Regions from separate parts of the Homo sapiens genome. Here all the other regions are linked to region 1. Evidence: fine-mapped expression QTL. A gene starts in region 1. Each other region holds a variant in brackets. All regions are shown on one strand. Distances are between the middles of the regions.

Region 1 (4,431 bases):
TTTTGCCAACATCCCACAACGGTCCAAGCCTAAACCTTATCTAGCCCAAGCACACTTATCGATTCACGCCCGACCAATATCCCACACCCAACACAATCGGCTCCATGATTAACCTTTGAAGCCCACAGCAAGATCGGCCACTGAGAGAAGGGATGCTAATAATAACATCTGACAATGTTCACTAGATGTGTTACACAGTATTCACCTCTGGGAGCAGAATCGGCTCATAAATCAAGGGTCGCTAGAAAACACTTGGCGTCCCAGTCCCCTTCCGATTTCTCAAAATCAGGACACGCACTAGATCCTCCCTCCCTTCGCCTCACTCCCCCCGCAGCTTCATCCCTGAGTGGGGGCGGCTCAAGCAGCGGGCTAACAACTACTGGCCTTTTCGTCCCCAACGCGGGAGCGCAGTGCATCCCAGTGGACAAACTCGAGAACCGCACGCTGCTCTCCGCCTCCACCTCTGTCCTCCCCGCTCGCGGTTCCAACCCGGGACCCAAATGCACGAGCTCGGTGAATGCCCCGGCAGGAGGGCGAGGGCTCAGAGGCAGCCTGCCCAGCAAAAACGACAGCTGTGCTCTGGTGGGCCCTGGGCCACCCCAGGCAGAAGCCAGAGAAGCCCGAGAACCCCGGCGGGCTGGCAAAGTTTGCCGAGAAGGGTCTTTCTGGACACCCCCACCACGGGCTCTAGGCTCGAACCCCCTCTTCCATCTGGCCCTGGAGTCCCAGACACAGACAAGCCCCGGGCGCGCCGGCGGGCGTATGTGCGTGTGTGTTTACAGCGGGGTGGCCGCCGGAGCTCCCCAAGAACCCCAGCTCTCCCGCCCCAGCTGCCCGCCAGCTGTGAGCGCCCGTCGGGCCCGGAGGTCACCCGCAAACAGCTGGGTCGGCAGCTGGGAGCCTGGGAGGCCCCTGCTCAGCCCCGGGGCCCCGAGAAAGGAGAAGGGGGAGCGGAGTGGCTGTTTGGCTGTGGTTTCCTCCAACTCCGCCTGCGAAGCTCTCGCTGGGAGCCCGGAGCTTTAGCTTTCCCCGGCAGCCCCGGCCCCCGCGCCCGCCGCGCCCAGCGGCCGGCGCCTCGCCCCGGGCCCCGGGGAGGAGGCGCGCCGGGGCAGCCGGCCAGGACACTGCGCTGCTGGCTCCTAGAGCTGCGGGCGCGCCTGGCCGGCCCCACTTCCCGGGTTGCTGGGGCGGGCGCCGCTGCCCCGACCCCGGACGCGCGGAACCCTGGAGACCCGGCCGCTCCCCGCCAGGGCCGCGGTGCTGCTCCAGGCTCCGGGCGGGCGCCCCTTTCCGGCTACCGGTGCACCCCGTTGCCCGCTTGCGGGAAGCGAAGAGGGGTCCCTTGATTTGCAACATAGAGGAAAGCGCCGCTTCCGCCCAGCCTGGCACCCACGCGCCCACACGCACCCGGCGCCGGCCGGGTCGCTCACCTGAGTCCTAAAAGCTGTTGAATCCACATGGTCACGTTTCGGGGAGCGGGGCCTCAGACCTGGCTCGCCCAGGCCATCTGCGCGGCGCCCGCGCCCGCTCGCTTCCGTCCCGCGGCGCCGGTCTCCGGCTCTCGGTCCGCCGCCTCCCGCCGCCCGCCGGCCGCGGGGCGCACAGCGAGTCAGAGCGCGGCCGCGCGGGGCTCCATGCCGGCCGGCGCGCCGCCGCCGTTGGGGCGCATGGCTCAGGCTGGGCGGCCCGCGGGGGCGCACATCCTCCGGCCGGGGCGCGGGGCTCGCGGCCCCCTCCGCCGGCGGCACAGCGAAGGCGGCAGCGAGGCGGGGCGTGTTCCGGCGCTGTCGCGGCGCAGCAAAGGGCTGGGGAGCCGCGGCTTCGCCCTCCGGGGCGGCGAGGAGGGAGGCCGGCGGCGCTGCCGCTCACGGTGCGTGTCTCCCGGCGCGCGGCTCTTGCCTCCAGCCGGAGCTCCGCGCCGATGGGGCGGCGCTGCTTAGGGTTTGGGGTGACGCGACGCGGACGGACGCGAGTCCCCTCCGCGCTGCCGGGTCGGGGGGCTCTGCCAGAGGCTCCGCCGCCGATCGGCGCCACTCAAGTTGCCCGGGGGCTCCGTCTGAGCGCTCGCTCTGCAGACGGCCGCGGCCCGGAGACTGGCAGGAGGCGGGCACGAGAGGCGCGCGGGGCGAGGGCGCCGTGGAGCGCGGGGCGTGGGGACGCGCGGCGGCGGCGCCGCGCGGAGGAGGCGCGCGGGGATCCCGGGGCCCCGCCGCCCGCGCCCACCGCGCCCGCCGCAGAGCCGCCCGCGCTGCTCAGCCGCCTCCCTCCTCGCGTCTGCCTCTCCGCGCGCTCGCCCCCGCCTCCCGGAGCCGGTCCCAACTCCGCCCGCCCGGCCCGGCTCACGTCACCCGCCTTCCCCGCCCCTCGAACGGGAGCTCGAGCCCCTGGCCTGGCCCCGGCTCCTGCTCGCCGCCCCACCTTGCGGGGGCCGGGGTCGCCGCGGGTGGTGGGGGGCGCTGTGCCCAGCAGGGGCGACAGCGCAGGCGGGGCCTCCTGCAGCCCCCTTCCCCATCCCCGGTCGCGTCCCGGTCCCCACCTTGCGAAAGGCTCGAGAGAGGCCGCAGGCTAGGATTGGACCGCCGGGCGCCGCCGGATGGTGTTGCCAGGGTAACCGGATGGCACGCGAAGCCGTTCGAGGTTCCGACCCGGTTACGGGGGCGCCCAGTGGACCCGGAGAGCTACTTTGGGGAGGGGGCGGCCCCGAAGAAGGACTGGGTGGGGGCGCATGGAGCGGGGGCTGCGCGAAAAGTTTCCTGGGGCGGAGCTGAGCCACGCGGGCCGCGCAGGAGCGTCTGTCCGAGGGTCGCCTACGAGGGACTCCTCTGCTCGGCTGCGCGGGCTTCTGCGTTGATGAAGTCACCGCGTTCCGGGTCGGAGCTTCGGCGCTTCTGCCCCGAACCCAGCGAAGCCCGGTCCTATGCCCCCAATTACCCAACGGTCCCTCATCGCCCAGCGCAGCTGCTGCCTGGCCAGGCCCTTGCTCCGGAGGAGTCACTGGAAAGTTCCAGGGAATCTGGGCCTCCCGGACTCTCCACCGGCGTTTCACTGCTCCCTTCCCATGCCAGGACTCCTCTGTGCCTACCTGGTTAGTCTGTATTTGCAAAAAACAAACAAAAACAACAACAAAAAACAAATGGGGGGCACTTAAAGGAGGACAGACGCTGGGCGGGGACCTTTCACTGAGAGAAGTGACATGGGGCGGAATCCTCTGCAGACCCGCTGACGCCTTGAGAAACCACGGCAAAACCCTGCTTTTAATCCTCCACAGGCTGAGGGCAGTGCAGAATCCGGGCCTTGGAAAGGACACTGGTGCCACCCTTCACTGGGGAAAGGTGCAAGGGGCGGGGGATATACCATGCCGAGCCTTCGCTCTGTGCTCTGTGCAGGTGCTTGACCCAGGCCAGCTCTGGAATCGCCCCAGGCCATGTGAGAGCCGTGGGGGGTGAGAGGGGCGGGAAGCACTTCACAGGTGAGGCCTCCCTGGGAGGGGCAGCCAGTGAGGGGGTGGAAGGGCAGAGCCAGGAGGACCATGGCTTGGGGCTCAGTCTCCCAGGCGAACCATAGCTTGGGGCTTAAGTCCCCCAAGCAGCCCTTTCACCCCCAGGCCTCCAGGATCTTTGCCAACGGTCTTGAGGAGCCAGGCACAGGATTGGACTCTGCCCGGGCAGGAGGATGAAGACAGTGACTTCCCCACCAAGACTCCCGGCAGAGGGCCAGAGGCAGGGAAGTGTGGTGGCAGGAGGGCCAGCCTTGCCGTGGCTGGACCAGGGGCCAGCGCTTGCTAACTCGGGGTCCTGGCCGAGTTGTGTGGCCTCTCCGACCCTCGGTCTCCTCATCTGTAAGATGGGTCCCACAGCCCCTCCCCGGGGAGGTGTTTGCAGGGCTCCATGAGAAGGCCTTACACACACTGTGGCTATGGTGATCTGTGAGCCGGTCAGAGGACCCGAGAGGCAGCAGGGTGACTCAGCAGTTTCCCTGCCGGGCCGCCCCTGGGTCATCGTCCCCTAGAGCCTCTCCCTGAGGGGTGTGAGGGAGCGGATCCCATTAAGAGGCGAAGGAGGCAGGGAGGTCCTGGAACCAGCGGGGCCTATGGCGGCCGGCGGGGAAGGAGGCGCCGGCAGTGCTGCCACCTAGCGGTGTGAGGAGGCGGTGCTGCACCAGGGAGGCCCTTCCTGCAACCGGAGTGGGCCTGGAAGGGGCCGGCTTCGCACACTAGGAGCCAGCAGGGCAGGGAGGGGCTCCGGACCGGACCGTGTCGGCTCCAGGAACCCCTTGGGCAGCCTTGTGGACACCTGCTGACCTCTCTCAGAATGGCTTCTAAGTGCATAGATGAAAAAGCCCAGGATTATTAGGAAACCAATTCTATGCAAATGCATTATCAAAAGAGTAATAAAAACAAATTTCTGATATAGCCGTATATATTATTTATTA
Region 2 (4,431 bases), 320 kb before region 1:
TCACAATGGTCCATAGGACCCCACCCCACTCTTCTGACCTCCCTCCTATCTGCCTCCACCTATGCCTATGGTCTCTTTTTTCCCATTCCTGCCCCAGCCTTTCTGCCAAGGAGCCTCGATCTGCGGTGTTCTTCCCCCGATGGCCCTGCCTGCTTGGCACCCCTTGCCTTCCGCACCCTGCCCAGGGTCATGTTCCCCTTGAGGCCTTTCCTGAGTCCCACCACTTTGTTTCTTTCTACATTCACGACCACTGTCTAGTGCATTTTATTATTGTACCCATGTACTTTGCTGTCACCTCTCTCCCCATTTAGAAGTTACCTCCCTCTGGGCGTGAGGGAGCTTTGCATCGTTTTGTCTGTTTCATTCCCTGCTCTGTCCCCAAAGCCTAGAATAATAACCAGCACATGGCTAAAGGCCAGGAAACACCTATTGAACTAATGAACAAACTTGTTGAGGAAATTAATAATAGATCACAGACTAACTTAGCACAGTCTCAGGCCTAGGGTAAGCACTCAATATACGTTGGTTTATTCATCAGCTTACTAATTTAGTAAATAGAAGGAAGAGGCAGTTGGTGATTTTCATCTGCTTTACTTTATCCAAATAAATTCTGAGAGGAAATGTTTTTATGATGGACTAGTACTAAAATCTCCCCACATGTTTCATGTGGGGTCAGCCCATTCTGCCCAGTGGAGATGGGACAGCAAGATCCAGTTTGAAGCATTTGCTATCAATGGCATTGAAGTATCACTGAAGGATCTCCAGAGCCCAGCAGCCAAGAAGGAATGCAAAGAGCCCACAAACAGAGGTTACTCCTCAAAGCCACTGCCCCTTTTGAAGACAAAAAGTGGGGGATGTCACAGTGCTACAGCCGAAGACCAGGACAGCCTGAGAGAAGCACAGAGTGGTTAGTAACAAGAGGAGAGCCAGGACTTTGCTTATAAGCTTGCGCTACACCCCATCAGGATTTCCCCGGGAGCTTTTTCCTGTGCTGGGGAATAACATGAACGTGCCCATCAGTGCAAAGGGTGCAGTGAGGGCAGGAAGTTACCGTCACCTCATTAGGTTAACGAGACACAAACCTCCAGCCCCTGTGCAGTGAGATACTGGTGACCGCCCTCTGACGTCTCTCCATCCTGCCTCCCCAGGCTGTTCGGATGGGTGGGGTTCAGATTCATGCTGTTTAGGGCAGGGCAAGCACCCTGCAAGCACAGAAGGCTCTGTTTCTCTGCTACTAGAGAAACCCACACCCAGTATCTTTGCACACTGCTGTCTCTTGTTTGGGTGCCGCCAAGTGGAGGCCACGGAGACTCAGTAGCAAGATCACGTGCTCCCGGCATCTGGTCAAGCCATCAACAATATGGTGCTGTTTAACACGAGGTCGCTGCGGTGCCCCATCAACACAGTGGGACCTCGTTAAATGTCATCTTATTTTAGAACTGGAGAGGATGTAGGCACCACGGAGTTCAAGGCCCTCATTCAGAAGCAGGACATCTGAGGCCCAACTCGCCCCAGTGGCCCTGCCTGGGGCACAGAGTGTCTCACCCAGCTTGCTATGTACTGTTCCTTGGCTGACCCTGATGGTGACTGTAACTTCCTGCCCTCACTGCACCCTTTGCACTGATGGGCACATTTGTATTATTCCCCAGCACAGGAAAAAGCTCCCGGGGAAGTCTTGATGGGGTGCATTGCAAGCTTATATGCAAAGTCCTGGCTCTCCTCCTGTTATTAACCACTCCCTGCTTCTCCCAGGACCTCTTGGTCTTCAGCTGTGGTGCTGTGACATTCCCCGCTTTTTGTCTTCAAAAGGGGCAGTGGCTTTGAAGAGTAACCTCTGTTTGTGGGCTTTTTGCATGAAACCTAACCCCACTGGCACCCAGAAAAGCAGCAGAAATACTGACCCAGGGAGTCAGTTTGTGCACCTCCATTCCTGCCTCTGTTGAATGGTAGTAGCCTTGGTCTCACAGGGGCACTTTCAGTAGAAAAGAGAAAGGGCATCTTTTCACCCACAGGCATTGACGAGGCCCCTGTCCTTCTAAACGTATCATGTGGAGATGATTCTGGGGCCAAAACCACTGGTAGGAATCCCAACTTCACTGCTTTCTTGTGCTGGTCAGATGATTTAACCTCCGGAATAACAAGACCCACTTTTGTTGAGCCCACTGTAGGTCCTCCCAAGTCCTCACTGCTTTCTTTCTGTGTCCTGACCGAGTAGCCCAGAT[T/G]GCCTTGACTGCTCTGTGACCCGGCCAGCTGCAGGCTTTCTCCTACAGGCTTGAACCCAAGCTGAACTCTGGAACATTCCCAGGCACTGATAAAGTCGTTCAGGTTGTTGCTTGCAGCAGTCAGTGAGAGACCACGTTGCTAAACATGTAGAAACCAGTCCGACCTTGAGCCAAGTTCCCTAAACCCTCAAACGCCAGACCGTGACCTCATCATGGACATACGTGGGCAAAACATCCCTTTCCTTGCTTTCTGTCACGGGGCTTCAGCCGCTGTATGTAAATTCCCCCGGTAAATGCTTTACAGCAAGGACCCCAGCAATTGTTTCTTCTCCCTCTGGAATTCCAGCCAGCCCCATCTCAGAACAGTTTGGGGCTGTCTCTTGCAGGAACTCCCCTGCTGTCAATTTTGGAGTGACTCTCGCCATGGGTTTGGCCAGACAGAGCACCCTTGCAAGGCATGGGTTACCTCACTGAACGCTCACAGCAACCCCAGGGCATGGATAATCCCAGCAGGGTATCCCCATTTTACAGGCAAAGGAGAGGAGGCTCATCAGAAAGGTCTCACAGCCAGGAACTTGTGGAAGCAGCTGCCTCCCTGGTCTGCCTGCTCTGCCCACTGGGTTCTAAAGCCTTGCAGATTCATGAGGACTCAGTAACATGGGGTAGGAAGAGTGTGCACTGCCCAGGGAGTGCTGAAGGTGCAAGGAGATAATACACTTGGGATTCACTGGAGCCCCACACCCCACAGCTCAGAACAAGGCCGCTGGAATTGCCGATTCCTGTGGTGTGGGAGGGGGCCCTGGCTCCAGTCGGACACTGCCCCCAGGTTTAGTTAGTCTGTGTCTAAGAGAAGAAGAGGTCAATACATTGGGAAGGAAATGTCGGGAGGGCCCCACTCCAGGCCCCACCCCTTGGGCCTTTCATCTCCGATTCCATCCTCACCTCCGTCTATCTCTCGTGCCGCCCCACGTGCGTCTTCCTCCTGGGTGGAAACGCGGCAGCTGGGGTGACTTGCAGAGGCTCTCGCTTGCGTTCCTGGGCTCCTCCTGGGATAGGGAGAAGGGTCTTCAGGCTGGAAATTAGAATAAGGAGACGTTCTCCCTTGAATTTAATTGCATCTCTGTCAGTAATTCAGCAACCATCATTTGCACACACATTTCTGAAAGGCTTTTCAAGGAATTTCAAACCCGCCATTTAAAATTCTCATTATGGTAGGAAATGGTCCCTTTGGGGCCCAACAGTTTTCTCTTTGGTCTCACGGTCCCTGGAGGTACGGATTTCAATTTAGAGTTTTCCACGTGGAAACTGAAGGAGCTAAGGCTCGCACATGACTCCCCCACCCCCTACCCCCGCCCTGAGCAAACACACTCGTTTCCAAGTCAGATGAGCAGCGAGAGAAAACATTCATCAAACTTCAGTAGTGTAATGGGTCTTCGCTGCTGGAATTAAATGCAACAGGTAGATAGGATTATGTTTAATGCGTATTTACTGGTCGATCTCTCAATTTGCTGAAGAACGTTAGTAACAATTGGTAACAAACGTTCCGTTGATTTATATGAGTGCATACAAACCCGGAAGAGCCCCACATCTCCCCCGAACCATGCCTGCATCTCTTGGGAGACTCTCACTTTCAAATAATCTTGTTAGATATTGTTAGAAACTGATAGATTTGCATACCGCGAATGTTAAAATTCAGAAAATACTCAACCGCCAATTACAGCCACCACGTCTTTCCCTAATTAATCAGTCAGGAAAGAGCAGCTCCAGGTGCTTTTCCTGAGCTGAGCATCCGCCAAAGCCTTTGTCTTTATTAATCTTGATGACCCACCAGTCAGCATAGGCAGGTCCCTCCGAGATGACGGAAAAGCGGGAACACCTCGGGGACTCACACCTGTGCCAAGTGATGAATCCTCCCGACACCTGATTAGATGATTCCCAGTTCTGTCTACTTCTGGACATGATAAACATCAGAGACTGCTCAGGGACAAAGCTAGCACCCCTGAGGCTCTGGATGGTGCAATTCCTAATCCAGTGAATTTCGTTCTATGCCTCCTTCAGGAGGTGCTCCTCATGAGCACCTGTCCCATGCCCTGCCCTGCAGACTAAGGGACAGTGGAAAGCTGTGGAGCAGAGCCCCCTCTGTGAATTGAATGAGCGTCCCTCAATGAACAAGCCTGCTCATGTGGAACACAGGGACAGTGGTGCCTGT
Region 3 (4,431 bases), 540 kb before region 1:
CTCTGCAGGTGGCTCATGTGGTGCAGGGTGGGCCCCCATGGGCAGCACTGGAATCTCTGTGTAGAAAGGCAGCAACTGGCCCATCAAGGGCTCCCTTCCTCTGCCATGGGCCATGAGGTGATGATGGCAGGAACCAAGATCAAGTATCCCAAAAGTAATCTGTGCTTCTCACAGCAACTAAGAAATGCAATGTAACTTTTCATTCCAAGACTGTAAGATTGATTAACTCTGAGTGGCAAGCATAGACAGCAGCATGGATAAAATCACCTTGACAAGATTTTAAGGGGGCATGGGATGTTGAATGGATGAGTTTCCCTGAAACTTTAGGTCTCTTGTGTATCCCATCCCCCATGCCCTAAACTAACTGGGAATATGGGTCTTGGAACAGTTCTTCTTGTGTTGGTTCATTCATTTTTCCTTGTTCAAAGCTGCCCTATTCTCTTTGAAAAGATATTTTATAAACATTGTGGTTCTAGGATTCTAGACTTAGCCAAACAAAAACAATTTCTCCTCCCCAAACACTCCAGCTCATAAATATGCATTAGGTGCCTATCATTTACAGCCTGGTATATGGCACATGGGCAGGGATGAGTGAGGAGGGCAGCAGGTGATGAAGGGAAAATGGGGTGGAAACCCTGAGTGCAGCAAGCGTAAGACCCAGCCCTTCCTCATGGGATGCGAGCCCTAAGGAGGCTAGAAATATCTTGACTCCAATGAGTGAATCAGAGGCATTAGCCCTGACTCTGTGTCCCCATGATCAGAAAAGTGCTATCAATGGCAGTGAGGCTAAGGTGGTGTGGGCGCCACAGGTTGGGGAGGTCAGGAGCAGATTCACAAATAAGATGAAACTTTAGGTCTTGAACAAAGGGTGGAATTCAGAGAAAGGAGGAAGGACACACCAGCCGTGGAACAATGGACACAATACCATGGGGAAAACAGCCTTGAACTCAGACGGGAATGACCAAGGATCAACAATACCAGCATTCATTCCTGCTCTCTGTGATGTCAATGTGCCATTTGATTTTCATGGGGCACTCATTGTAGGCTAAAAATGACTGGAGGATGTGAGGCCCCCCCAAGCCTGCTGTTTGTCTGAACAGGGATACTGCAGGGAGATTAGAAGCATCCTCAGCTTGTGAGTCTGCATTTGCCCCCTGTCTTCCCACAACCTCTCCTCTTTGCTTTCATCTGCACAATGCCATGGAGACACCCTCTCTACTTTTTGCATCACCCTGACTTCCCTCCCTCTGAGATTGGCCAACGGGAAGTACTTGCAGGAGGTCAAAGACCGGGAGGTCTCTACTCAGCACAGTTAAGGAAGTGGCTGTGACATCTAGCAGGTGACCCGTTTTTCAGAATTCCTGCTCTCATGGGACTCCAGTAGCACAAGCCTAGGGATGGTAAAGCCTTTCCACACTTGCCTGGGTACCTTACTATCTCTTGTTGGCTCCTTTAACTTCATCTATCTCCTGTCTTTTGTTTCCTGCTAGAATCTGACTGATACACCTTCCTTTCCCACTTACTTGAACATCTGCATCAGGTAAGTATTTTTCAGTGAAAGTGACAAATCCACTTCAAAGTGTCTTAATCATTGAAGGGAATGGATTGGTTCATAAAACTAAAAAGCTCAGGGGTATCTAGCTTCAGGCACAGTGGTATCCAGGTGCTCTGTGTCTCTTGGCCCTCCTTTTCTCTGTGTTCACACGAGCTCTTCCCTTGTCAGAGGCCAGAGAGTGATCATGAATTCCAGGCTGGCGGTTCCACCAGCTGAGTAACCACAGTGGAAAAACAACCTCTCCTTCCAACAGATTCCCTGCAGAAGCTGTGCTAGTTGATAATCACTCTTGATTGGCAAGACCTGACTCACATGTCTACTTCCGGATTGGGGATGAGGAAGATGGGTGGGTGGAAGGTGCACAATGGGCAGACCTTCCTCCGCCGCAGAAACTGGGAATGGGGAGTGTGTATTTTCCCAGTGGAAAATTAGGAGGAAGAGAATGCTGGACAAGTGAAAATAAAAGATGTTTGTCCTGAGCTTGAACCTGGTTTATGGAACGCTCTCAACTCAGTGGAAATTTGTTCCTCAATCTCTTTCACTAACCATGCTATGTTAAGCCCTCCTTTCCTGTTACTTAAGAATGTCTCGGTTGCTGCTGGTCATTCAAATTAGTCCAGTCCTGTTTAAAGTTCTAATTTTGTAAATGTTTCAACACTCTTCTTGACCCTGTGTGGCCCAGACCCTCAGCTAAAGAACTTGGATATGGTTGTGTGTGTGCCCATGGGGTGAAGAGGGGGCGAGGAAAGAGTAGGTCACTCCTGTTCCCTCCACCCTTTTGTAGTTTCTAACAGGGATGTCCAAGGGAAAGAATACAGGCATGGGTTCTTAGTTTCTGTTTCTGGCTGG[G/A]CTAGTAATGCCCCCTTTTCATCCCTCTTTTCTGCTTATCACTAGAGACGGAAACTAAAAAACCACAGCTTCAGGCTACTAAAAGCCTCAAAAAAAAAAAAAAAAAGCAAGACAGAACAACAGTAACAATAACAACAAAATAAGGTGGATTGGACAAGCTTGGTAACACCTCTGGTGTCGGGGATTGAAGAGGGAAAACAACGGTCAAATTATGCAAGGAGCAGCTCTTGGTAATGGTGAGCTGTCCTTTGTCCTGAAGTGGCTCAGTTGAGTTATGGCCTCTGCTGATGAATGTCTCTGTGCAGAGGCTGAGTGTGGTTTTATCGGGGTGTGATGTTCCTTCTTACTGCAGGAGCCTCCATCACTGAGGATGGCTCAGAGGGATGCAGGTCTCCACATCCCACCCTTCTCCACCTGCAGCATCTTCACGGCATCTCCGTAACTCCTGCATCCTCCTCTAACCTCCGTAATTCTTCATATGAAACCAAGGGAATCCCAGAAGATTTCTCTGTGAACTCTGAGAGTTGTGGAGGATCAGGGTAAGGTGGGAGTTTCTCCATCTTCCTTCCCAGACCCAGTACATGCCATTTTCACATTGTCCTGCTGGAGCTGGTATTTCAGCAAGTTCTTTGGCATCAGGTATAAAATAGGCATAGATCTGTGTTCAGATTTCCCCTCCCAAATTCAAGAGATTCATGTCATTCTCTCACAAGGACCCTCTTATTATTGTGTCCCAGCATTAGAGTGGGTCTGCAAGCCTTGCTGGAAATGAATGCTCAGTAAATCGGTGACCACAGAATTGATTGGCCAAACCTGGACACTTACGAGAGTGAGAGGGGATGCTACTAGAAATGACTCTGAGACAATGGGTGAATCTGCCCCAAGTGAGCCAAGATGTGCAGCCATCCTATCTGTAAGTGATTCTTCTAGATCCCTGAATTAGTCCATTTTGCATTGCTCTAAAGGAATACCTAAGGCTGGGAAACTTATAAAGAAAAAATGTTTATTTGGCTCACAGTTCTGCAGGTTGTACATGAAATATGGCACCAGCATCTGCATCTGGTGAGAGCCTCAGGAAGCTTCCAATTATGATGGAAGGGGAAGGGGAGTTGGCGCATCAGGTGGTGAAAGGAGGAGCAAGAGAGAGATGGAAGGAAGGTGCATACTATGTAAGCAACCAGCTCTCTTGTGAACCATTAGGGTGAGAACTCACTCATTACCATGACAATAGCACCAAGCCATTCATGAGGGATTCGCCCCCATGACCCAAACACCTCCCCCAGGCCCTACATCCAACATTGGGGATCACGATTCAACATAAGAATTGGAGGGTACAAATATCCAAACCATATAAGTACCATCCCCCCTCCCCCACCAAATACACACTCTCTAGGTGATTTGGGATAGAGAAGAGTGAAGCTCCCCTCCATCAGAAAGAAGGAAATGACCTCTTACCATAACCCCATGTTTTTCTTCCACAATCCCCAATCTGCCAATCCTGATGCTTCTCACTCTCTTCCTGTCTCAGGTTCTGTGCAGGCTTGGGAGGAGGGTTTGGCAGGGCAGCTCATGGGAGATGTTCCAGCTGCCTCAGGACGCTCAGATGATGTGTGCTTACGGCTTCCCAGGAGTTCTCTTTAGATGTGTTTGAGTCTGAAAAGAACATCGTGTTCTCCTCAGATGTGCTCACAGTTCTGCAGGTTGTGCAAGAGGTATGGAACCAGCACCTGCTTCTGGTGAGGGCCTGGAAGCTTTCTTCAGTTTTGGGGACTTAGCAACAATTATGAGGCCATAGGAACAATCTACCTAGCCTAGTCTCTCCATTGCAAGCAACAGGAAAAAGCCTTTGGTTAATTTAAATAGCAAATAAATTTATCCAAGGACACTGATGACCCGCCAAATATCTGGGAAAGCCAGAGAGCCAGGTTTGTGAGCTACGCAACAAAATGACACCCCAGAATTGGTCGTGCTCCGCCGATACTTCAACCCTGCTCCATGGCTGTGCTGTTAGAACCCCTGCCACTGAG
Region 4 (4,431 bases), 100 kb before region 1:
AGTCTCCCAAGGAGACATGATTGAAGAGTGACACACTATATTAGTCTGTTCTCACATCACTGATAAAGACATAACTGAGACTGGGTAATTTATAAGGGAAACATGTCTAACTGACTCACAGTTACACATCACTGGGGAGGCCTCAGGAAACTTACATTCAGGAAGGGGAGGCAAACATGTCCTTCTTCACATGGCGGCAGGAAAGACAAGTGCAGAGCAAAAGGGAGAAAACCCCTTATAAAACCATCAGATCTCATGAGAATGAGAACTCACTCATTATCACAGAAACAGCATGAGGGTGATCACTTCCATGATTAAATTCTGCCTCCCACGGGTCCCTCCCACAACAGGTAGGGATTACAGGAACTACAATTCAAGAGGAGATTTGGGTGGGGACACAGCAAAAGCATATCACACACCTTGCCTCAAGATATTATAGAAAAGCACTCTTCACTCATTCAATAACTGCTTATTCAGGACCTACTGTGTGCAGGCACTGGGCTAGACCCAAAGGCTGCAGTAGGGGAACAAAAGCAAGCAGTGTCCCCATCCAGAACAGGCTACAAACCAGGGTGATGAGGACACCAACCAACCAATCACAAATACTCATGCAAGTGCACCTGTGACAAGAGCTTCTACAACAGGAGGTACCATGAGTGTCTGTAGTAGACCCACTCCCCAGGTACCTGTGATGTGTTTCCATGGTGATCCCAAATCCTCACCCCCTCCAGCCACACTCATGCCAGGATGCTTTGCAGTTGTCTGTGGGCTGGGCCAGTGTTGGGAGCAAGGTGGTGCATGAGGCTGGCCATTTTGTCCGTTTGCCATCATAGTGAGAACATGCCCAGCCCAGCCCACGGGAGACTGAGAGACCCATGGGCCACAGCTGACAGCCCTAGCCCCCAGCTGAAGCCAGCCCAGATCAGCGAACAGCTGGCCACCCGGGGGCATGTGAGTGAGCCCCAGCAATACACTGGTAGCACTGCATGCCCCTGGGTCTGGTGCTGTTTGTGGCATTTCAAGGCATAGCTCACTGACAGGGGAGGCGGAAAGGGGAGGGGTCTGTGCTGAAGGCAAAGGAAAGGATCTTCTGAGAGAAAGACCAGAAGTGAGGCGGCCTCCACTGACACAGAGAATCAGATGTCTCCAGGAGCCACATGAAATCCTCCCAGCCTCGCTCGGGCTCCCTTATCACCTCCCCAAACAACGACTCATGTGTGAGCCTCTGTGTCAGGCTCTCATCTCATTCCAGGGAACCCCCGGCTCTGCCACAGGCATGGGGGAAAGGGCTGGGGGCAGGCAGGTGTGGCTGCATGACAGAGATGAGGCTAGGGAGGGCTAGGGGCAGCCTGAGGTTCCACACTTGGAGGGGGCACTGCAGGCTCCCTACCCTCCCCAAAGACCCTTCTCAGCATTCTGGGAAAACCCACAAGGATTCTCTGCTCAAATCAAGGTGGGAATTCTTTGTAGGAAGCTTAGTTCCCTCCTGGAGAGTCACAAAGCTCAGGTTTGAGAGGCCTCCAGAAAGCAAACTTGTTTCAGAAGGTTTGCTTAACCCAGCATCTCACAAATTTGGCATCTGCACTCTTCTTGCACAGAACCTAAGCGTCTGAATCCCAGGAAAACAAAACCTCCATGAACTCAGCAGGATGTAGTCTCAGAGACAGGAGGGAGCCTCTCTGTCTTGGGTTCCACTCACGGCAGGCCCTCCAAATCCAGCCATCTCTGTTCTGCCCTAGACCCTCCGTAAACATTTGTGAGTTGGAGAGAAAGAGCTTAGCTTGGGAGACATTGACCCAGGAGGGCATTACTTGCTGCTGAATCTTGGTCCAGACAAGCCCCTGCTGAGGAGTTTGGGTCAGAAAAGGTCAGGCCATGCCATGAGACTACCGCACACCTGGCCCAGGCACCCTGAGCACTGGTCCTGGGCTCCCAGCCAGGGATGCCACGGTGCGGACATAGTCATTTCACTCCTGCAGCCCTCCCTGAGCTGCTTTCGGCAGGGCCAAGCCCCTCACCACTGTGGGCTGCTTCTGTTTTGGGGCCCGTGATGTGAAAAGGGGACCACACTTCTATTTCTGTGTTGAGAGGTGCTTGCTCACTGATGCAGCTGCCAAACTCCACC[C/A]AACTCAGTGACAAAGATCCTCTGCCTGGCGAAACTCTCATCAGGCTCCTGCACCTTCTCCTAGGCTTGTCTGGGCACTTCCTTATGCATATGCTAAGCATAAGTCTATGCTTAGCAAAGAACCCTGCTAAGTGAGTTTAGCCAAAACCCCCACCCTCCATATCTGATCACCCTCCATTTCTGATCCGTTGTCATCCTTCACCCTTCCCCAGGTGACGTCTGATCAACCTGGCCTGCCTTCAGCAAGAACCCTGTTAGGTGGGTTTAACAGCCAGAACCCCCCTTACTCCAGTGTTTCCTCCTAGTCGTTTTTAATCCCCCCACCACCCCGCCCTACCCCTTGGCTGCAAATTCCCATTTGCCCAGGCTGTGTTCTAAGTTGAGCCCAATCTCTCTCCCCCATTGCGAAATCCCACTGTGTGGTCCCTGTACTTGCTGTGATGGCCCCAAGTAAAGCATTCCTTACAAGTAAAGCATTCCTTACTGCTCTCTAACAAGTCTCATTGAATAATTTTTCCTTTAACATCCAAGACATGCCTTCCAGTGAGGTCTGAGTCAAACCCCCGGTACTAGACTGAGTCCATGGGCAGGCAGGGGGTGGGGGTGGGGGCAGCTTAATCTCCCTGGAGCAAGGCCGGAAGCTTGCAAACAGAGCCCCGTGGCCAGGCAGGGTGCTCTGCCTGCAAAACCCACTGGCAGTGTCAACAGAGCCAGCAGGAGGGAGACGGTTATCCCCTTGTTTCATTAAAACCTCTATGCAGCCAGAGAGTGGGGAAATTGCAATGCAATCTTAAGTGTGGGGGTGGTGTGAGAGAGGAGGGGGACATGTGAGAGTCCCCCGCACCCACTTCCCACAGGGGTTCTGAGTGCTTCCTGCTGCAGAATATTGTTAAATTCAGTAACAGCTGCTGTCTTTATGACACCAACAGCCATTTTATTAAAAACAATAAACAGATAAATAGATGCACTCGAAAGGCCCCCAGTTACCCTCCCTGTTGCTCTTGGACAGTCACCTGGTGCCCCTTCTCCCACCAGGACAGGAGTGGGCAGTGCCACCCAACCACGGCTCCATGGGCTGCAGGGAGGGCACATGGTGAGAATCCCTGTGCTCATACCACCTGGCTCCAAGGCAGAGACACCTGGTGGGCCAGCTGGGGGTTCCTGCCCAGGCAGGGCTGATCTCCCTGCATCTTGCCCACTGGGGCTGTTGCAAGTCAGGACATGAAAGGCCCAGGGAGTGGTGGCTGTGAGCACTGTCCCCACAAATGCCCCAGGTTGAGATGAGGGGAGAGCAGGAAGGAGGACCCAAGGGCAGGCAGCACAAGGGAGGCTCGCTCGCTTGGAATAAGGAAGCCATAGGAAAACGGCCACTCCTTGCTTTGCGCTGGGGTCCCAGCAACGTCTTAATCCATGTTTCCAAGAAGGCCTTTCAAAGCACAAGACTGAGGCCCCGTCACCGAAAACAAACAGAAACAAACAAATAGACAAATGTTCAGTTTCAGTCTGGAAAATCAGAAGCTGGGAATTCCCTGTGAGTTTAGAAGACGTGAGATGTTGTCCTCTCATCCTCAAAGTGGCAGCTGCTTGAGGCCAGGAAGCCATCCATGGTCTGGGAAGCTTGGAATGGAGATTGGGACTGTCAAGGAGGATGGGCTGCCTGAGAGACTGGAAACTCACTTTCTCTCCACATAGTCCCAACCTAGTGGGTAGCCAGAAGGGAAAGGGAGTCTCTGCTACAGGAGAAACTGCCTTGAGAGCAAGAATTGGCAAACTTTTCCTGCAAAGGGCCAGAGAGTCAATAGCTTAGGTTTTACAGACCATACAGCTTTGGTAGTAACAACACACCCCTGCCTGTGTAGCCACAGACAAATGTAAACAAATGAGTGTGCTATGTGCCAGGAAGTCTTTAATTGTGGACACTAGAAATAGAATTTCAAATAACTTTCATGTGTTGCAAACCGTTATCCTTTTAATTTTTTTCAACCTTCTAAACATGACAAAACCATTCTTCGTTCCCAGGATGTACAAACGCAGGAACCAGGCAGGATTGGTCCATGGACTATAGCTGGTCAATGTCTGATTTAGTGCCATGAATCATCTCTATAGCTTTTCATGCACAATGTCTAGCATTCAACACAAGATTACCAGGCACACCAGGGGACAGAACCAAGCGAACAAAAACCAAAGAGAAAAAACAAAAGACAAAAGACATAGTCTCATAGAATAAGTAAGTATTGGAGTTATCAGACACCACCTTTAAAACAGCAGTTAGGCCAGGCGTAGTGGCTCACGCCTGTAATCCCAGC
Region 5 (4,431 bases), 82 kb before region 1:
CACACCCCCGCGGTGCTGCCATGGCCTGGGGGGCCTGCCCTGGCTCCCACCCCCTCTCCTTACTCTTCCCTTCTGCTCTGTGCTAATCCTTCCCACCAAATCTGCCTGCCAGTGGCTCTCGCCAACAACCTCCACTCCTGCCCTAGGGCTGGCTTCCCTCCCGCCTAGAGTGCTCTCTCTTAGCTCCAGACCAGCTACCCCCTAATCACCCTCCCCTTGTTCAGAGAGAGGCCCCTCACGCATGCTAACTCCCCAGTCAATCCACATTCTTCTTGCAGAGACTCTTATGCTATCTTGTGTATTGACTCAGTCTGCTCAACATGGTTGACAATTACGCATTTATTTGAGTGAATTTCCAGACAATCACCCTTGTGGGCCTGCTAGCCCCATGAGAGCAGGGCCCCTGTTGTGTTGATCATGCCTCATCATGCATGGCCGTGGCCTGCCATGTGGCTGGGGGCTGCATGCTTGAAGGACGCCTGGGCTTTGGGTCCCATTACTCTTCTGAAACATTAGCAAGACAAGAAGTGTAACATTTGGAATGAGTAAAATTTGTACTCAGTACCAGGTAAAATCAAGCCTGGGAAGCTGTTTCCCCCAGGCAGGTGCTTTGCACACCTTTGGAGTTTAACCAGCTCTTGTGAAACTGAGTTCTGGGCTTCTTCAAAATCCACATGGAACCATGGGTGCAAAAGGCAGCTGGTTTTGGTTTTGGTTTTGGTTTTGGTTTTTTTGAAAGAGGGTCTCGCTCTGTCGCCCAGGCTGGAGTGCAGTAGTGCAATCATGGTTCACGGCAGCCTCAATCTTCTGGGCTCAAGCGATCCACCTGCCTCAGCCTCTCGAGTAGCTGGGACCACAGGTGCATGCACCACTACATCCAGCTAATATTTTAAATAATTATTTTTGTAGAAAACGGGGTCTCACTCTGTTGCCCAGGCTAGTCTTGATTCCTGGGCTAAAGTGATTCTCCCACCTAGGCCTCCTAAAGTGCTGGGATTATAACTGTGAACCACTGCACTTGGCCTAGAATTTCTTTAAAACCCACAACAAGGGCCTCAGGAGTCTGGGACCTGGGCACCCTGGCCCTGCCTATGCAGAGGCCTAAGGAAAGGATGAGCTCGCAGATCTCGGGGGGCTTCCGTCTCGGGGGGGCTCCCGTCTCTGCTTGCACTTGCACTGCGTCCTGTTGCTGCACCAGGAAATCCAACACGAGCCCCAGAAAAAAAAATCTCACCCCACAGGTCCCCATCCTTGCCGGGTAATCAGTGCTATGGCATTTCCCTGAGAGAGGTGAGGGGCCGAGGGGTGGGTGGTGACGGGGGCTTGTCCAGGGACTCGGCAGAGCCAGGGGGCAGGCTCAGGCTCAGGCTCAGGCTCATGCTTTTTCCCGACTCTCTGCTCTGCCCCAGCCTCCTCCCAGCCTGGGTTTGGTGAGAACCTTCCCATCCCAGGGGTGCCCATCCACAGCCCCATAGTAAACTGCAGGCAGGGAAAGGACGCTCTCACACAGCATCCCACTTTGCTCGCGATGCTGCAAACAGGCGTAATAATTCCCACTTTGCCCAATGCAAGTGTGCCAACTCCAGTACATTCAGAGAGTTGCTCTAGTTCATTCAACCATTTTTCTCTAGATGATGGCTGGATTAAGCGGGGCCCTTGCTTGACCTGGGCATGAAAATAAGCCCCCGCAGGGAAGAATTCTCAGGCCTCAATCCACCCCCAGTAGTCAGCCCTGGAGACCCATGTCTGAGTCCTAGGGCTGCAGGTCCATGTAGAAGCCCTCTTTCCAACCAGCCCACCCAAGCTGTGCACTCCAAGTTTACCAGCGGCCCCCGCACGTTCTCCACAGATACACTGGGATAACTAGGGGTTTGAGCTACAAGGCCTTTTCTTTATTCTTTAATTTTCATTTGCTTATTCAATAAATACATATTGAACTCCCTACGTGTGCAAATTGCTCTGCCGTGTGCTATACAGAGGATAAAAAGAATCAAAAAGCACATCAAGGCTCGGGCCTGAAGGAGCTTGCAGGTTCACTGGGGAGTCAGGGCCTCACTTTTAATCCTATTTTGCAGTTATTTATACATATAAATACAACCAGGAAGGCAGCATGAACATTTGAGGAAGGAAGAGATTATCGCTGGCCACAGAGGATTAGAGGAAGATGTGTGGGAGGGGAAGTACTTGTGGCTGGTGTTTTTGGAGCAGAGTGAGCTGGGAGGGGGTAAGATGTGACTGGCAGAGCCAAGACCGTGGGAAAGGGAGGGCTGCGCACAGCGCAGCGGGCAACAGGAGGCCAAGGGAGAAGGCGGTCACAGCCTGGAAAAGAGGTGAGAGAGCTTGAACTTTCTTGGGGTAGGCAGTGGGGAGCCAATGACAGTTCTTGAGCAGGCGAGGGG[C/G]AACATCAGAGCTGTGGTTTAGGAGAACTGATGGGGCAACTATGTGAAAACTATTTCTGTCAACGGTCTCAGGGACACCTCTGCAGCCTTTACCATGTGCCAGGGCACATCCCAAGCCCTTTACAAACATTAACTTTTTCTCCTGACAACCCTGGGAGGTTGGCATTTTTCTTACCCCTGTTTTCCAAATGAGGAAAGTAAGGCGCAGGTAAGGCAGCTTGCCACTGTAGCAAGTAGGGAGCTGATCTGGGGCCTTAAGGAACCTCAGCGCCAACCCTCTTCCTCTAAGCTCTGCTCCCCTCAATCTGACCAGCAATGGCAAAGGCTGAAGATCACCGTGGAGACCCTCAGGAGGCGGGCCCCAGGGCTGAGCTGCAGTGACACAGGGAAGGGGAGCCAGCTCCGAGGCCAGAGGCAGGGGTAACAGGGGCTGTGCCCCATTTTCAGGAAGATGGGACCCCGGAGGAGGCGGCAGCTTGTCGAGGGGCTTACTGAGGCTCAGATGGCTGCACTGCATGAGTCAAGCCAGGGTAGGGCTTCAGGGAGCAGAGGAGCAGGGAGGAGCTCACCTCACACCTCACACAGCAGGCAGAGGTGCCCACTGTACAGCAGGCAGCCTGGGAGGAGAGACCTCCGTGTGCAGCCTCCTGAATGTCCCTGGCTATTCAGTGGGCTGTCTTATCTTTTTAAACCTTTCTGAGCTCTTAGGCCAGTGCCACAGGCAGAATAAAGCTGCCCACCCGGTGCAGTGGGTGCTGAGCCTGCATACCAGGCTCCTTTCCTGCAAAATTGGATGGGCGAGACATTCAACCAGGAGAGTCCCAAACCTGGGGCCCAAATTGGTCCCCTCTCCCAATAGGCGTTCTCACCCCACTGATGCACATCGCACCCTCCCTCCCACACGCTCCAGGCTGGAATTCCAGGGATGACTTCTCTCCCCATCTCCCCTATGTGAGTGTCACGGAAGAAAAGACCTGCTGTGACCAGCTTTTGAAGTGACTTCAGCCCAGTATGCTTTTCTTGTCTTCTTCTAGCAGCCAGGAGGCCTGGTCCCACCATGCCTTGCGTGCTGTGGCAGGCTTTTGTAAGGGTGTGCTCCTGCCGCTGGTGCGGAGCTCACCCAGGTGTAGAAGAGAAGCCCCTCTACCCGGCCCTCTATCACCCTCAAGGGTCGCCAAGCACGCGGAGCTCATACGTGTAAGCAAAGCAGGACGGCTCCCAGGGAAGTTGAGGTGAAGACGGCTGCTGCAGGCTGAGCTCCATCACGCGGCTCAGCTTGCAGGCGATGGACGGAGGAGTCGAGAAACAACATTGCCATCTGTGCCGGTGGACAGAAAGCCAGATGGAGGCTGAGTGCTCGGGGAAGAGGAAACGCCACTGTTTCGGGCCTCGGAAGCAGAAGATGCTTCCCGGGCCTTAGAAACCTTGTCCGGGGGAAGGTGAGAGCCTTGGCCCTGCCACCATCACTGACCCCTCTTGGGTGCTGCCCTTCTCCTTCCTTCCAAGAACACCCGAAAGACAGATCATGCATCATATTCAGCATCGCCCACAGGTGCCACTCCAGCCCCATCCAGTGCAGTCCGAGCTCCTGCAGTGACGAGGCCTGACATTCATTCATGGGCAGACCTGGACAGACTCCTTAATCCCTGTCTCCACTTCCTACTTTGTAAAATACCATACGCCCAAGGGATGGTGGAGAAGACTGAAGGAGATACAGTCAGATGAGTGCAGGCTGTCAACACACCATCCCTGGAACCTAGGTTTGAATCCTGACTCCACCCCCTTCAGGCTGTGTGACCTCAGGCAAGTCACTTAACCTCTCGGGGCCTCTGCCTCTGCTGATTTAAGATCAGAGGAATGCCTTCTTCCCAGGACGTGTGTCCTGTGGGCCTTATGAGATTTAATTCAAGTCAGCTGTCAGAACCTGGCTCCCAGTATGGACGCAGCGCTGTTAATAGTGAGGCAGGAGGCTCAGTAGGGCAGGCCCTTCCTATTCCGGGGCTCAGCTGAGGCACTCCTTTCATCTAAGAAG
Region 6 (4,431 bases), 48 kb after region 1:
ACCTGTTTGTTTAAGAAACTCATAAAACAGTGTGGTGGGCTGACAGGTGGCCCCAGAGAGACAGGTTGCATCCTAATCCCCAGAACACAGGAATGCCACCTTATGTGACAGAAGAGAGAATGTTCCCTTTTATGGCAAAAAATGTGATTAGGCTAAGGATCTTGAAAAGAAGAGCTTATCCTAGATTATCTGGGCAGCCCCAAATGCAATCATGTGTATCTTTTTAAGAGAGAGGCAGAGGGAGTTTGGGGACAAACACATACAGAGGACAAGGCGATGTGATGATAGAGGCAGAGATTGGAGTGATGTGGCCATCTGTGAGGAATGTCAGGAGTCCGCTTTGGATGAAGCGGGGAAGGACCCTTTCCCAGAACCTTCAGAGGGAGTATGGCCCTGCCGATGCCTTGATTCTGGACTTCTTACCTCCAGAACTGTGGGAGAATAAATTTCTGCCGTTTAAAGCCATCAAGTAGGTGGTAGTTTTTGACAGCAGATAGAGGAGAGTCATTCACAGAGTAAACTTCTGCACTGATCTGGCCGGGAGAGGATGCAGACAGCACAATTCCATTTCTGGATCTGATCCTTCTGAGGCTCCAGGGGCCCAGTGCCTCTAGGTCCTAATCCAGTTCTCAGTGTTCTGGACATTCTCAAGGTCTTCTCGCCCTCCTGGCTTTCTGGGCAGCAGCCCCTTTTCCATGTCCTGGACTAGGAGCCACCAGGGCTGGGCAGGTGGCCTTGTAAGAGTCTCACTCACGTCTGTTCTGCACAGGTGACCAGGGATTTTTCTCCTTTGCCCAGAGCTTGAGAAGCAACAATGCCCATTCCTACAGGCAGGGACAGAAGAGGAGAAAGTGATGAGCTTTGGGTTCAGAATGGCCCACGTCTGGGCATCTCAGCGATTCTGGCCCTTGAGCCCTCCCCATCTTTTCCATGGGACTAATAATAACCAGAACAGTTCCTCCTACTTTTCATCCTCTCCACTGAAATCCCCTCTCCTCTGGAACTTTCCCAAGTATTTGTAGAAGATGTCATTGCAGCCTCCATGGTATGGATGGTGAGGACTTGGCAAACTAGCAGAAAAGCCTCATAAAATGTCTATCCTAGCCAGGCATAGTGGCTCATGCCTGTAATCCCAGCACTTTGGGTGGCTGAGGTGAGTGGATCACCTGAGGTCAGGAGTTCAAGACCAGCCAGCCTGACCAACATGGTGAAACTCCGTCTCTATTAAAAATACAAAATTTTTAGCTGGGCATGGTGGTGCCTGCTTATAATCCCAGCTACTTGGGAGGCTGAGGCAGGAGAATCACTTGAACCTCCGAGGCAGAGGTTGCAGTGAGCTGAGATTGTGCCATTGCACTCTAGCCTGGGCAACAAGAGAGAAATTCTGTCTCAAAACAAACAAACAAACAAACAAGCAAACAAACAAAATATCCATCCCGGGAGACAGCCAACAAAAAAGGTGAAAAAATAAAAAGAGAGCGAGGTCATTCTAAAACGTAGTGACTACTTAAGAGAAAGAAGCAGAGAGATGAGATGTGGAGGGTCAGGACAATGTGGTCTGGGCTGTACCTCTTGTACCTGTTGGCATCCTAGACCCCAGGAGCTCAGAAAGTGGTATATTTGCAGACTGCATCTGTAAAGAAGCCATTAAGTTAAAATGAGGTCATTAGGGTGGGTCCTGACTGGCATCGTTATAAAAAGAGGACATGAGGATACAGACACACAGAGGGATGACCATGTGAGGACAGAGAAAGGTGATGGTGTCTACAAGCCAAGGAAAGAAATGTTGGGAGGAACCAACCCTGCCAACCTTGGTCTCAGGTTCCAGCCTCCAGGGCAGTGGGAAAATAAGTTCTGTTGTTGAAGCCCTTTGGGCTAAGGTGCTTTGTTGTTGCATCCCAAGGAAACCAACGGGCAGGCACAGGTGTAAAACACCTTTAGAGAGGTGGACAGAAGGGGTGCCCTAGGGGCCGGTTGGTGAGACATGATGTGCTAAGGGTGGGGAAGAACCTACCAGGCAGAGGCATGACAA[G/C]GAAAATGCCCCAGCAGAGACCCATCCACATGGGGTCTTGTGGGCCACACTAAGGGGCTTAGGTTTTGCTCTAAGAACTCAGGAAATTATGGAAAGATTTTAAGGAGGAAAGCGATGGATTTGGTTTACACTAAAAACAAAGAAGCCAAACAGAAGCCACTCTGGCTCCTTGTCGAGAGCAGGCTCTGAGGCATGAAAAGCCGTGGGAAGATGGGTGGGAGCTACTGCAGGAATCCAGGACTCTGATGGGCCCACGATGGGGGAAGTGCAGCAGATACAGCAGGTACAGGGATCTCGAGCCTTGCAGTGACCCAGCCAGAGAGCCACAGAGCTGGGTGAGGATTTGAGTGTGGGAGGAGAAGACAACACAGTATCTGGAATGATTTCCGAGTTTTGGGGTGGTCAGATTCATTGAAGGGTGGAAGAACAGTGAGGGACAATGCCAGGGCAGGCAGGAGACCAGGCTGTCCCTGGGACATGCTGAGCTTGAGATGTATGGTGCTTTTTCAAGTGGAGAAGTCAAGCAAGCAGCTGGATGTGTGAGACCAGAGCCACAGGGAGGAGAGAGACATTTGTGAATCATCAGTCCATGGGGTGATTTAAAACCATGGGGTTGGATGATGAAGTTAGAATGGGTGGAGATAGAGATGAGAAGGAGTCAGGAGGGAGATGGGGTGCTCTGATCTCTAAAGACTGAGCTGAGGAACAGGAGACAGCAAAGTAGTTTGGGGAGGAGCTGCCAGGGGGGTAGGAAGTGACCCAGGGAGGGGTGACATGAGAAAAGGATGACCTGCTGTGCTAAATACTGCAGAAAGGTTGAGCATGATGAGGACAGACACGTCCCTTAGATTCAGCCACGTGGAAGTCCTTGGTGACCTTGAAGAGGTTAGGTTTTAGTGATGAGGATGGAATTGACCACATGCCAGGCAGGTTGCTGCTGCTGAGAATCAGGAACAATTCCTGGAATCCACTTAACCCACTGCTTGGCAGAGCATCAGTCATTTCAGCCCCCGTTTCTAAGAGCATGTTATTATCAGGTCATGCTTGAGATTCTTCCAGCCGTGAGGTCTGTTGTAAGCACCGGTATGGGCAATGTGCAAAAGAACCTTGTTCTCCAAGGGCACGCGCCCTCAATTTTCCCAAGCAGTTGTTGGGTTCTTGCTCAGTAAATTCTCTGGGTAGCATGGGAGCTACATAATTAACATTCCTGTTTTCTCCTTTTCAGTGGTCTGGTCAGCCTCTGGGACCAGGACAAAGGCTCCCGAAGAAATGTGATAGCCAGAGGGGTCACTTTCCCGATCACAGAGCCTCACCTCATCATTAACATAGTCTAAACATGTTGGAATGGCTGGAGTCACCCCTTACGCCCCCAATAGCTATGTTACAGACTACAGAGGATGTCTGGAGGCTGCAGCCCAGAAGCAGGAGCCCAGAGTTTCAAAGTCCCCTTGCAATGCTCCTGAGGGTTATTACATTAAGTTTGGAAGGTAAACCAGCAGGCTCAAAGGTTTCTCCGACCTTTGCATCAACATAGATATTAAATATTATATTTTTGTATTATGTTACTATAATTAGATATGTATACATACAGAGATTCCAAATTATGTTCCTGTGCATTTGTTAACTGCAAAACCAGAGCTGCCTGTTGTTCTCCTATGTGACTCCTCTAAACCTGAAAATCTTTGCAAACACCTGTTAGGGAGACACCCCCAAAATACAGCCAGAGTTGGACAATGAATTCTGCCATTTTTCTGTCGACAGAAGATGATTCAACTTTGAAAAACATGAAAGCAAACCCCTCCAGGGGTAGTACTTACTTGACCTTGAATGGGTACTAGGAATGTGGGGAGTTGTCCCCGGCGGGGCTCCGAATGGTCCCTTTCTGCAGTCAACTATAAAGTTCCCTGGAATGTCCCAGCTCCCAAGGCTGCATCTGATACCAAGCAAGACTGAGAATTGTTCCCAGACAAGAATCCTCATTGCACCTTTAGAAGTCCACCCACCCAACCTCTAACCAGAAAATAGATTCCTATAACATTGCTAATGGGTCATGGGCCGAACACGTCACTTGAGACCCTCCAGGTTGTGAGCTGTGCCCACCTCACATGGTGCTTCCAATCCTCTTCCTTGCTTGCACTGTAAGCATAGAGAATCAGGCAACGAAGTGTGATTGGAGATCATGGCTGAAACCTTCCACCGGAGGCAAGTTTGGCTCTGACGCCAGAGATGCTGCTGACTCTATTTTTTGCCTTTTCCTGGTTGAAAATGTTTTGCAAGCCACCAGCCAAGTTGGGGTTTCAGTATCAGAACAGTTGGCAATCCTGCCCTAATGGAAAATGAAGGGGAGCTAAACGTGGTGTTCACAGTTCACCTTTCATGGGAAACTTCTATTACCTGGT
Region 7 (4,431 bases), 59 kb before region 1:
CGCCAGGTGCCTTATTTTATGCTCAGTGTTCATCCACTAAACTCTCACAGCAACCGTTTAGGAAAAATATTTCTTTTTTTTTTTGAAATAAGTTTCACTCTTATTGCCCAGGCTGGAGTGCAATGGCAGGATCTTGGCTCACCGCAACCTCCACCTCCCAGGTTCAAGTGATTCTCCTGCCTCAACCTCCGTAGTAGCTAGGATTACAGGCATGTGCCACCATACCAGGTTAATTTTTTGTATTTTTAGTAGAGACAGGGTTTCTCCATGTTGGTCAGGCTGGCCTCGAACTCCTGACCTCAGGTGATCCATCCGCCTCAGCCTCCCAATGTCGGGATTATAGGCGTGAGCCACTGCACACGGCCTATTTCTAAGCCTCAATTTTGCTGGTGAAGAAAAGAAAATCAGGAGAGGAGAGACCTTTTCCAGGGTCACACAGTGACATGCAACAGAGCCCAGATTCTCTCCCAGATCTTCAGCCTCAAGGCACCTGCTAACTAACTGCAGCAATTCATGGCCTCCCAGATTGCAGCTCTGGAGTCCCCAAGACCACTTCTGCTGCCTTAGATGTCTGAGAAGTGTGAGTAGTGTTCACGTTCCACCAAATGTTGGGGGCGCAGGTCTGCATCTGATGACTGCCAAGCAAGGGGGTTCCAGGGAGTTCAGCCCTCTGTCCCAGCACTCCTTCCATCTGGGGAAGCTTAAACAGTTGTTTTCCTCCCCCTGCCCCATCCCCCTCTACTTGGGACTTCAGATAAGGAGATTATGCAGCCTGTTCTCAGTAGCCTAAGCAAAGATCTCACCTCCTGCATCACCAGCAAGTACTTCCCAGTGTGTAACCTAAATTGTTCCTGCTCTGGTCTAATTCATTTACATGGTACCCACTGGGCTATGAGGAACCCAGTTAGGGGAATCATCCCCGCATTTCCTCTCTTCCCTTTGCCTTGGCTGGGAAGCTCAGGATGGTGGCCTAGCCCTGATGAGCGCTGCTGTAAACCACCTGTTCCCTTCCCTGTGGCCCAGCATTGCGTTCCAGAATTAACATTTCTCTGCATTAGAAACAAACACACATATTTTCCTCTTTTTAGATTTGTTTTGCTAAACAAATTAATCTAGCACCAGATTATATTATGAAGAACCATAAATCGCTTCCAAGATAAGCATCTGTCGAGATGGATTAGCAACATCCAATGCACTGTGAATTAATTTGCTAAGCCTACAACGCTGTCCCGGGTGTTTAACTTTAGTAATAACAAATGTAATTTGGAATAAATGGGAACTTGTTTCCTCATCCATGTCTATATAGTAAGTGACGTATACAGAGGAGGTGACAGTAAGGGAGAGTAGCAAGAAATCCTACTATGATGATGGCTGCTGAGTTTACTGAGGTAAAAATGAACACTCTGTAAACTGCTAGCAGGCGCCTGACAGTGCAGGATGAGCTGCAGACCCCGCATGTCCGTGGATTCCCAAAAGAGGCTGCATGGGAGGAAGCCGATGCAGGACCTCCAGAGTCTCTTCCTCCGGAGCCTCTTCCTCCAGAGCCTCTCCCAAGCCCACAGCCTCCATCTCTGGGCATGGCCCTCAGCATGCGCAGGGAGCCCAGGCTGTGCTTCCATAGAGACATTGCTCTCTAGGGAAGAGGAGCTCAGAAAAAAAACCGCAGGTTCTCTTGTCCAGGTGAAGGAAGAAAGTAGGTCACCGGCTGAAGGACAAAAGCCACCCACCCCATGAAAACCTGTCCAAGGACTGCCCGGTGCCTGCCTGCCCAAGATGAGGAGGAACCAGGGCCAGGACGCAGTCTAGTGAGGACGCAGAGGGCCTGGATGCCATGCCGGCCGCCTGCACATGAGCTCTGAAGAGCAGTTCTCTTCC[C/T]TCCCCTTGATTCTGCAGAGGCCTGGGTGGGGCCTACCGAGCCCACAAGCTGGAGGTTGTGGAAAGCAAGCTGTGAGGAGGCCACAGGGCGCCCCCGCCCACTTTGTACTGACGCCCTAAAATCTGCATCCGATTTTAAAGTTAGCAAATGTTGCTGTTTGTCTAGAATGTGTATGCACAGATCTAGGTTGTGAACTTCTGAGCCAACCTGGCACATCGGGCTGTGCCTGTTAACAGAGGCAGAGAAAACTGGAGGGAGGTGAGGGTGACGGGGTGCCCAGGGCTCTGCGCTCTCCCCGCAGGCCTGCTGTGAAGCCTGGTGACATCAGTGCAGGCTACCAGTTCAGGGACAAGCCCTGGCTTGGGAGATTTCCAAGGGCTACTCCTTTCAAAGCAAATGGAGGACAGCGTATAGGAGGAAAATAAAAAACAACAAAACTGCACAGAAGGAGATATTCCAAAGCCAGTGAACTGTGTGTGTCCACAGGCAGCTAGGATAACAGCAGCAGAAGAACCAAAGCCCTTTGTTCTGATCTCCGTCCTCCAAACACCCTCCTGACACATCCCCAGGGAGCCGAAAGGTGCCACCTGAATCACTGTCTGCGAAGGTTCTGTTAACACCGCAGGAAGTTCTTCCTTTTACCCAGCCTCGGCCTTTCTTGCTATTTAAGGCCATTCCTAATCCTCTACCGAGGTCAAGTTGGCAGGCACCCTGCCCCCGTCCATGCCCCCGTCCATGGGTCCCATACCCTTGAAGGCTTTTGAAGACTCTGGGGCGGGGGGATCCTTAATTGTATCACGAGACGGGCAAGCATCTTGCTCAAGGGCCGGCCCCAGAGACAAAATTCTCTGATTCTGGAAGGCGTGGCTGTGTGTGGTGGATTCCACCGGTCTGTAACAGGGCTGCAGCACCTGGTGGATTCAGCTGGTCCCTAACAGAGGCACAAGGGGTGCAGCGCCCACTTCTAGGTACATACTAAAAAGGGAAACTCTCCCTTCTCACGCCCCCTTCCTCTAAGGCACAGCCTGTATTTGCCAGTCTACAGGCATGTGCAAGCTCATGGACACATCACGCCTGCATCTCCTGGAGCCTCCACACATAGCATCACCCAGGGACATCTAAGCATCTCTCCCGAGTCACGCTCCCAGCCCTCAACCCCAAGCAAACCCAAACCAGAAGAGAGATGGCTGTACCTGAGGCCTCCCCCAGAATCCTTGGGGGCTGGGTGACTTCCCCGTTGTTGCTGGGACTGGTGGAAGGCTCCGTTGTGCTAACCCCACCTGGGATCCTTCTCCGGGGATCCAAGGACTCGGTGAACCCCTTAGTCTGCAGCGTCATGGGGGTGGCCGTGGTGGTGGTGGTGGTGGTGGCGGCCACAGTTGTCTTCCGTGTTTGTAGGATGGAGACCGTGGTGGGGCCGTAAACGCCCGGAAATGTGTTGGACTCCAGGGCCTCCTCGTCCCCCGTGGGCCCCCAGGCGATGAACTCAGTCTCTGTGGTGGGCCGGCTGCCTCTGGAGTCGAAGCTGCTGAGACCGTCCCCCTGCAGGTGCCTCTTGCCCCTCCTCAGGAGGGCCTGCTGCTCCGGGGCCCCACCGGCCACCGCGGAGGACGAGGACGAGGACGAAGAGGCGAGGGAAGGGCTGGATTTGGCAGCAGCTGGGGGCTTGGCCAGTCCTGCCTTGGGCACGAGGGCGGCCGCCTGGTCCCGGGGCCTGTGGGCCCGTCTGGCTCGAGGCATCTGCATCTGCCCGTGGATCCGCTCCACTCGGGGCGGCCGGGGGCTCCACACCGGGGCCGGGACCCGCGCTGGCTGTCCACTCCTAAAACTCCACAGCCGGGGCGGCCGGGGCGGCGACCGCGGCAGGAGCCAGAACTCCGGCCCCGGGCCCAGGGCCTCACAGGCGGGCAGGTCCACGGCGAGCTGAAACATGGCTATCAGTATCCAGGCATGGCTTCCGAGGGGGCGGCCCGGCCAGCGGATGGACATGGAGCTGTGCGGGGGGGAAAGGAGAGAAGAGCGGTCAGTGGAAGCCCAGGAGGGGGACTGGGCCCCGGGGCCCTCTCTCTCCACCCCGCGCTGTGACAAGGACGCTCTCTTCTTCTGGAAAGAGCTCCTCCTAACTTCAAAAGGGAATCCGAAACCCTTCCTTCCTTTCCTTCAAAGGCTCACTCACGTGCAAGAACAGCGCGCGCTGCGAGGGTGCGGGGAGCTGCTTCCCGGCACCGCGGGGCTGAGGCGCCTGCCAGGCACAGAGCCGGCCGGTCGCCGAATAGTCCATTTCACGCGAGCGAAAACCGAGCCTCAGAAACCCCCAGCCTTTCAGGGCAGCCTCGACAAGATAACCTGAAAAGACCTGTGAGTCCCTCCTTCCTTTTGCCCATCACACGACGAGAGGACGTAAGTGAGAGGATGGCAGCAGCGGACACCGGCCTCCACCTGGGACCCCAGGGCCAGGCGCTTTCCTCTACATAGCCCAGGCCACCCCCCGCCCACTGGGGAAGCGCCTCTCCCCAGGTCTAGGAGGAGCGGAGGTTTCAAGCTTGAAACCTCGC

Which allele goes with the higher level. Alleles are on the strand shown, and positions count from the first base shown. SD is a standard deviation of normalised expression in the study named. Not every link is listed here.
For the expression in ovary of the gene that starts at base 2,276 in region 1, G is the high allele of the variant in region 2 and T is the other (moderate effect, 0.47 SD a copy in GTEx).
With allele G in place of C in region 6, the expression in lung of the gene that starts at base 2,276 in region 1 is higher (small effect, 0.28 SD a copy in GTEx).

The links. PIP is the estimated chance that this variant, and not a neighbour inherited with it, causes the effect.
Region 2: its variant is fine-mapped to the expression of AJAP1 in ovary (GTEx, PIP above 0.99).
Region 3: its variant is fine-mapped to the expression of AJAP1 in pancreas (GTEx, PIP above 0.99).
Region 4: its variant is fine-mapped to the expression of AJAP1 in unexposed skin (GTEx, PIP above 0.99).
Region 5: its variant is fine-mapped to the expression of AJAP1 in whole blood (TOPMed, PIP above 0.99).
Region 6: its variant is fine-mapped to the expression of AJAP1 in lung (TOPMed, PIP above 0.99).
Region 7: its variant is fine-mapped to the expression of AJAP1 in whole blood (TOPMed, PIP above 0.99).

The regions. Positions count from the first base shown.
Region 1 is chr1:4,652,454-4,656,884 of GRCh38, reverse strand. AJAP1 (adherens junctions associated protein 1) reads right to left here and starts at 2,276. Exons shown (of 6, transcript NM_018836.4): 1 at 1,431-2,276. The coding sequence starts at 1,459. RefSeq lists an enhancer at 4,236-4,285.
Region 2 is chr1:4,975,825-4,980,255 of GRCh38, reverse strand. LINC02781 (long intergenic non-protein coding RNA 2781) reads right to left here. Exons shown (of 5, transcript XR_946902.2): 4 at 3,165-3,294. Among named protein-coding and RNA genes, the nearest start is that of LINC02781, 4.6 kb to the right of the region's middle. The variant T/G (reference allele first, on the strand shown) is at 2,223.
Region 3 is chr1:5,196,761-5,201,191 of GRCh38, reverse strand. No RefSeq gene overlaps it. Among named protein-coding and RNA genes, the nearest start is that of LINC02782, 100 kb to the right of the region's middle. The variant G/A (reference allele first, on the strand shown) is at 2,405.
Region 4 is chr1:4,753,837-4,758,267 of GRCh38, reverse strand. The region is part of intron 2 of AJAP1 (adherens junctions associated protein 1); the gene reads right to left. Among named protein-coding and RNA genes, the nearest start is that of AJAP1, 100 kb to the right of the region's middle. RefSeq lists an enhancer at 3,006-3,867. The variant C/A (reference allele first, on the strand shown) is at 2,126.
Region 5 is chr1:4,734,205-4,738,635 of GRCh38, reverse strand. All of the region lies in intron 2 of AJAP1 (adherens junctions associated protein 1), which reads right to left. Among named protein-coding and RNA genes, the nearest start is that of AJAP1, 82 kb to the right of the region's middle. RefSeq lists an enhancer at 4,257-4,431. The variant C/G (reference allele first, on the strand shown) is at 2,400.
Region 6 is chr1:4,604,036-4,608,466 of GRCh38, reverse strand. No RefSeq gene overlaps it. Among named protein-coding and RNA genes, the nearest start is that of LINC01646, 35 kb to the right of the region's middle. The variant G/C (reference allele first, on the strand shown) is at 2,033.
Region 7 is chr1:4,711,338-4,715,768 of GRCh38, reverse strand. It overlaps AJAP1 (adherens junctions associated protein 1), which reads right to left. Exons shown (of 6, transcript NM_018836.4): 2 at 3,070-3,869. Among named protein-coding and RNA genes, the nearest start is that of AJAP1, 59 kb to the right of the region's middle. RefSeq lists an enhancer at 4,162-4,431. The variant C/T (reference allele first, on the strand shown) is at 1,876.